2 linked regions of the Homo sapiens genome follow. The protein of the gene in region 1 purifies or fractionates together with the protein of each later gene. This does not show direct contact. Each region holds a gene or a part of one and is shown on either strand. Other genes may lie near its edges.

Evidence for each region.
Region 2: the proteins of APLF (region 1) and XPC purify together in Homo sapiens (affinity purification with mass spectrometry; 3 studies listed by BioGRID and IntAct, with this or other methods). This does not show direct contact.

What each region holds. Positions count from the first base shown.
Region 1 is NC_000002.12:68,470,579-68,474,199, reverse strand, and holds part of APLF (aprataxin and PNK-like factor), read right to left. Parts: intron 1-3,621. UniProt on the Homo sapiens protein: Histone chaperone involved in single-strand and double-strand DNA break repair.
Region 2 is NC_000003.12:14,158,003-14,161,623, forward strand, and holds part of XPC (DNA repair protein complementing XP-C cells), read right to left. Parts: intron 1,829-3,621; coding exon 1,739-1,828; intron 891-1,738; coding exon 9-890; intron 1-8. UniProt on the Homo sapiens protein: Involved in global genome nucleotide excision repair (GG-NER) by acting as damage sensing and DNA-binding factor component of the XPC complex. Has only a low DNA repair activity by itself which is stimulated by RAD23B and RAD23A.

The DNA of each region.
Region 1 (3,621 bases):
AACATGTAGAGGTTTCTGGAGGGTGGCACACTTGGTGAGAGCATGGAAGCTCAGTATCCCTTCCCATAGCTTACCCTATGCATCTCCTCATCTGTATCCTTTGTCATATCCCTTATAACAAACCAGTTCTAGGAGCTGCTCTAGCAAATTAATAGAGCCCAAGGAAAGGGCCATGGGATCCCTGGTTTACATCCAGTGGTTCAGAAGCACAGGTAAAACAACTTGGGGCTTGCAATTGCCATCAGAAGTGGGGGGAAATCTTGGGAACTGAGCCCTCAACATGTGGGAGCTGATGCTATCTCCAGATAGATGGTGTCAGAATTAAATTGAATTAGAGGACACCCAGTTGATGTCTGCTGTAAAAGTGACCGCTTGCTTGTTGGTAGGGAGAAATAACCACATATTCAATCACAGGAGTCTTCTGTGTTGACTGCTGTATTTTTGTCCACTCAAAATATACATATGAAAAGTGATTTACCTCACATCTATTAGAATGATCAAAATTTAAAACACTGATAACACCAAATGTTGATAAGGATGTCCAGTGACAAGAACTGTCACTCATTGCTGGTGGGAATGCAAATAGTACAGCCACTCTGGAAGACAGTTTGGCGGTTTCTTACAACACTAAACATACTATTACTATACAACTTTACTATCCAATCCAGCAACTGTGCTCCTTAGTATCTACCTAAATGAGTTGAAGACCTACGTTCACACAAAAATCTGCACCCAAATGTTTGTAGTTGTATTATCCATGATCACTAAAACTTGAAAGCAACCAAGATGACCTTTAGTAGGTGAATGGATAAACCGACAATGGAATATTATTCATCACTAAAAAGAAATGAGCTATCAAGCCATGAAAAGACTTGGAGGAACCTTAAATACATATTACTAAGTGAAACCTGAAAAGGTTATGTACTGTATGACTCCAACTCTATGACATTCTGAAAAAGGCAAAACCATGGAGAAAGTAAAAGAATTCAGTAGTTGCCAGGGGTCCTGGGGAGCCTCTGGGGGATGAATAGGCAGAGCACAGAAAATTTTAGGGCAGTGGAACAACTCTGTGTTATACTGCAATGGTAGATAAATGTCATTATACATTTGTCAAAACCCATAAGATGTACAATACCAAGAGTTAACCCCAGTGTAAACCATGAACTTTGGGTGATAATGACATGTCAATGTGGATTCATCAATTCCAACAAACATACCATACTGTGTAGAATGTTGATAGTCGGGGAAGCTGTACATGTAAGAGGGCAGAGAGTATATGGGAACTCTCTGTACTTTCCACTCAGTTTTGCTGTGAACCTAAAACTCCTCCATAAAATAAAGTCTATTTTAAAAACTAATATATTAAAAAACAATGTTTGTAAAAGTTAAACGGGATCATTGACATAATGTGATCATCCCACAAGCCTGGTCAACACCTACCCAATTATCCAACACACCATATCTTAGAGCCTTAAACCACGCAAGCCCTTCCTTACACCACCCACTCCACCTACCAAAATTCTAACTGTCCCAACACACCACAGTCAAACTCAACATGCTACCAAGTTCATGAAGCTTTCTTTCCCTGATCCCACCTCTTAACTTCAGGTTCCTTCTTATACCTCTCTGTACCCTGTGACATCATTCTGTCTAGCTTGAGGACTAAGCTCTGATTATTATTTTTTTTTATCTTGCCCAAATTCCTTTCTAAGGGGTCTGGGGAGTCATGCCCTACAAACCATAAATTCTCATCAGATGAGTTTTATTTAACCCTGTATAACGTGACTTACTTTCCAGTCTGACTCAGGCATAACAAGGAAGAAAATCAAAATGTTTTACCCTAAAATATATTTCTTTGCCATACCTTGGAACTGTCCTGCAAAGTCTCTTGTGGGAAAAACCCACATTCTATAGAGAATTCCCTTTCCCCTTTGTTTTCCTTCCTTCCTTTCCAGATCCAGGAGATAATCAATTAAGAGCCAGGCACTCTTTCAGGTCTCATAAGAAACATTTTACAACCTGCTATCTCTGAAGTCCGCTATCTGAGAGCTCTGCAAAATAAAACTTCGTCTCCACAATCCTTTATCTTAACCTGAACATTTCCTTTGATCTTAGGTCTTGAGATAAACTCAACTAATTGTCAACCAGAAAATGTTTAAATTTACCTATAGCCTGGAAGCCCCTGCTTTGGGTTGTCCTGCCTTTCTGAACCAAACCAATGTATTTCTTAAATGTATTTGATTGATGTCTCATGCCTCCCTAAAATATATAAAAACCAAGCTGTACCCTGACCATCTTGGGAACATGCTCTCAGGACCTCCTGAGGGCTGTGTCACGGGCCATGGTCACTCATATTTGGCTCAGAATAAATCTCTTGAAATATTTTATAGAATTTAACTCTTCATCAACAGACTCATGGTATTTAACCAAAACTTTTAATAAAAATGTGACCTTTTAAAAATCAGTGATTATATCTAAAAATTCAAATTTCTTACTATTCTTAAAAAAACAATATGACACTGTTACCAACTGGGAATAGGGGAAAGTAGCAGGGATTGCATAGAGACCCTCTCCTTGTGGCCTTCCCAACACTGAGGCAGAACTGTTGTCATTTATCACTGTCCCTGTGTTGTTTTTCTTCTTCCCTCCCACTTCGCTTACTCCAAGTGTCAGCCTGGCGCCAGTCCCCATGTGAGGTTGTAGCCTTATTTAGTTACTAATACTTGTTTATTTGTCTCTTAACCCTACAAAACTATAAGTTTCTTGAGAGCAAAGACTTGTTTCTCATTCACCTTTATTTCTCCTATACTCCCTCCCATCCAACCATAGTATATATTTATCAGCTATTTCCTGAATTTAGCGAATTATCAATCAACAAAACAGGAAAAATGTTAAAACTTAATTCATTATGAATGCTACTCAAGATTTAGCAGTTGGTAGGACTGCATCTTTACTATATTTAAATTCACTTCAAAACTCAATGATAACCCTTTTTCATATCTAAGTCACAATTAGGCTCTTTTTGAGGGTAGAGTGAATGAGAGGCTGAGATGCCGAAATGGAAGGAAGAAATCACGTGTTAAAGGCCTACTGTGTGCTAGGCACTGGTTGTAGGCTAAATAATAAAATGAGGGAAGGGCAAATCTAGAAATAAAAGAAACGTAAGGGAAGAAACCTATGTTGGAGCAGGTAGGAACAGCATTCCAGGACAGCCAGGATTCTGCAACAAGCAGTTAAAAGTATAGAGCTGCCAGGTCAGGGGATGGTTACTTTGTGTAAACTTTGTAGAACATTTACAACATTCTTAGAAGTGGTGAACTGATGCCACCTGAAGAGTCTATACTGAAGCCTATGACCTTCCCTGTTCCCCCAACTGAGGACTCTTCTCCTTTTAATCAAAGCAGTCAATTTAATTACATCTACATTGAGAAAGTATCACTAGATATCTTTTGCTATCTTGTTTCCTAGGAGGAAAATAGATCATAAAGAAATGTGTCATATAATCCCTGCTGTCAAAACAAAATAAGAAAAATCTGAAATCAGAAATAGTAGATTTCATTTAAGAGTGTAACAGCTTTAATTAAAACCCATAAAGCAAATACTTTGGCCTAACAGTGCTTG
Region 2 (3,621 bases), on another chromosome or scaffold:
GGCCTTACCTCCAAGTCTTCTTTCTTCTCCCTGTCCATAAATGGGCTCTGGTATGGTCTCAAGGTCTCGGCCCACCACTCAGCATCAACCCGGCACTTGCGGGTCACTGTCATCCAGACTGGGTCGTACCTCTGTGTGACATCTCGGACCCAGCCGTCACTGTCAATGCCCACCACATAGGTCATGGGCTTGGTGGCGTACTTGTAACAGGTCAGAGGCTGGCCCACCACACCGTGCACACAGTCTACACATACCCACTTTTCCTCCTGCTCACAGAACACCTCTAGCCACTGGTCTATACCAGCTATGCTTCTTTTTTCTGCCTTCTCACCATCGCTGCACATTTTCTTGCCTCTTTTACTGCTTGAAGAGCTTGAGGATGCCGCTGGCAAGCTTGGGTCCTTACGATGGCTCCCACGATGGGTCCTGGAGGCACTCTTGGACCCAGCCTTTGTCCTCTGAGGAGCGGGGGCTTTCCTCTGCTTTGGAGGGCCAGGTTCGGAATCCTCATCAGAGGGATCAGAGGCTTCTCCACTGGAGAGCTCAAAATCAGAGCCGCTGCCAGCCTCATCACTCCCACTCTCCTCTTTATAAGACACCCTGGAGGCCACCCGCCGCTCCCGGCCATGCGGACGTCGCTGGGTTGCCTTCTCCTGCTTGTCTCCTGGGCCCTCATCTTCCTCGCTGGAGGAGGGCTTGCTCCGTTTCTTTCTGCCTCCCTTGTTCCTCTTCCCTTTGGCACTTGGCCTGCAGGTGCCCTTAGCAAAGGTTTCCTCTTGTTTGGTTCCTTTGCTGGTCTTTGGTTTGGTGTGGTTTTCTAGAACTTGGCTGGAAGTTTCTGAGGAGCCTCCTGGATCCGCAGTCAATCTTTCCTTGGAAGGTTTCTTTCCCTTAAACAGAATAAGAAATTTTGCTTTTTTTTCTCCCCCCTCTTTTGCTAATGATATGATAGAAATCCTGTAATCTAATAGGGTTAAGTCACCAGCTAGAGAACCAATACATCAAGATGTCCCCAGCTCAGACAGTGATCAACCAGCTATCCTTCAGGGTTGTATGTATGTATTGGCTAAAATCTGTAGCATCTTAGATAAGGCCACAGTATAATTCTTTTCACCCTAACTGTAAAGAGAAAAGAACATGGGATTTGGACAGCCAAACATGGGTCTGAATTCCAGTTCTAACTCTTATTGGTTACGTAAATTAGGTAAATTACTTAACCTCCGAGTTTCAGTTTCCTCAGCAGTACTACTACCCACCTTGGACATACGCATTTTGCAAACAAATACTTATGGACTTAATACAGCTGTAGTTTTAAGAATACAGATATTATGAAAATCAGCTTCTAGACCATCAGGCTTCAGACAATGCCAATACCCCAATGAGTACAGCATTTAGCTTCTTGAAGCTAACCCAGACCACCTCAAAATCCACAGTGCTTCACTCATCAGCACTCCACGGAGCAAGCAAGGACAGGCACCATTCCACACAATTTACAGAACAGAACAAAAGCAGCACTGGGCCGAGGCCTCTCACAGGCCACTCTGCACACGTGAAGTTCAGGCTGCTAGATACCCACTCACATGCCCAAGTCTTCCCTAACACAGGGTATGTGCAAGGCTCGAAAGAACCCACACTCCGTGAATACCAGCTCTTAAAAAATATAATAATGATCAATTTTTTTAAGTGTGACAATTTCCTGTCAATTGCTCCTCTTCTCTGGCAGCCCTGCGCACCTCACCTTTGCTGTTGCTGACTTCAGAGGAATTGGCTGTAGAGACAATACCAGCCGGGTCAAGAGCTGCAGAGCCCGGAGAATCAGTAAGAATATCTATGATGAAAAGGAAGAACATAGTTATCCTAAGAAAGTAATTAAAGATGTAATGAGTTCAATGTTGTTTGTTATGGTGCTTGTTCAAGACAGGGAAAAGCTGGAAACAGCCAGACTGTCTAACAGTAGGCGACGGAAACTCCAGACACTGTTAAAAACGATGATGCAGAAGTTTATCTTCGTAGAAGAACAGGAACATGCTCATCATATATTAAAGGAAAATAGAAGTTTTCCTTTAAAAAGTATGATGTGATTACATTTTTATAAGAAAAATATGTATATATAAATTTAGACATACACGTATATTTGAAAAAGCATCCATATACTGGGTTATGGGTGTTTACATGCTTTTTTTCTCTGCTTACCTACCTTCTGATTGTTCTGTAGTCAATATGTGTTGCGTTTGTGACTAAAATAATAAAATGAAATACCACTTTGGGAAGAAGAAGTAGAAAGTATCATTATCGTCAGATCACCAGGTCTGTTCCCTGTTTTCCAATTTTCCCCACATTGAATCTTTAACTGAGTCTGCAGCTCTGAAAGCTGTTAACTTGGAAGTCTGGGAGCCCCTCAGGGGACTTAACTCCAATGGCAACAGTGATAATGTACTCGGCCAAGGCCTTCCTACACGGGTCTCCAGGTCCCAGCATCTCTCCTTGATTACTGCCACAGCCTCGGGAGAAAGTCCGGTGTGAGAAGCCATTGTTATGGTGAGAAAAATGATTGCTTTTGCCTTGTTTCTTCTGCGGCTAAAAATTTCCAAAGTGTCAAGGTCATGAAAGACAGGGAAAGCCCAAAACACTGTCACACACTGGAGGAGACTAAGGAGACATGATGACTAAATACAAACTGGTATCATGGAACAGAAAAAGGATATCAGTGAGAAAACGTGGAAAATCCAAATAATGTCTGTAGTTTAGCTGATGGCATTGTACCAGTATTAATTTCTCAGTTTCTTCTTGTACAGCATGGCACAGGAGCACAGGTCCAGAAGTCTGGATAACTAAGTGTTCACCACTAGCTGAGTGACTTCCCTAAGCCTGGATTTCTGCATCTAGAATAATCCCTGCCTCGGCTTCCTCACAGGACTCTAAAGAGGATTAGACAAGATAATGCAGGTGACAGGACTCTGGAAACAGTCTAGTGCTACCCAAGCATACACAGTCACCACCTTTAGTAAGAAATCTATCAATGTACATTGCTGAGGAAAAAAATCAGGTTACAGAACTGTACGATCCCTACAAATTAGATAACATAGAGAAAATGGACAAAATCCCAGAAACATACATATATGACCAAACCTGACTCAAGAAGTAATGGAAAATCTGAACAGATCTGTAATAACAGATCGAGTCAGAACTCAAAAACCTCCCAACAAAGAAAATGTCTAGGACTAGATGACCTCACTGGTGAATTCTAGCAAATATTTAAAGTGGAATTTACCTCAATCTTTCTCCAACTCTTTCAAACGTTAGAAGAGGAAATATTTTTTAACTTGTTCTATGAGGCAAGCATTACCCTGACACCAAAGCCAGACAAATACATCACAAGAAAATAAACCAATTTATGAATATAGATGCAAAAATCCTGAATAAAATACTAAAAAACAAATTGAACATATGAAAAGGCTTATACAACATGACCAAGTGGTACTTATCCTAGGAATGCAAGGATGGTTCAACATAAGAAAATCAATCAATTAAATATACATTAATAGAATGAAGGAAAGAAAATCCAGAGGATCATTTCAACTGACAAAGAAAAACGCACCTGAGACAATCCAACAGGCTTTC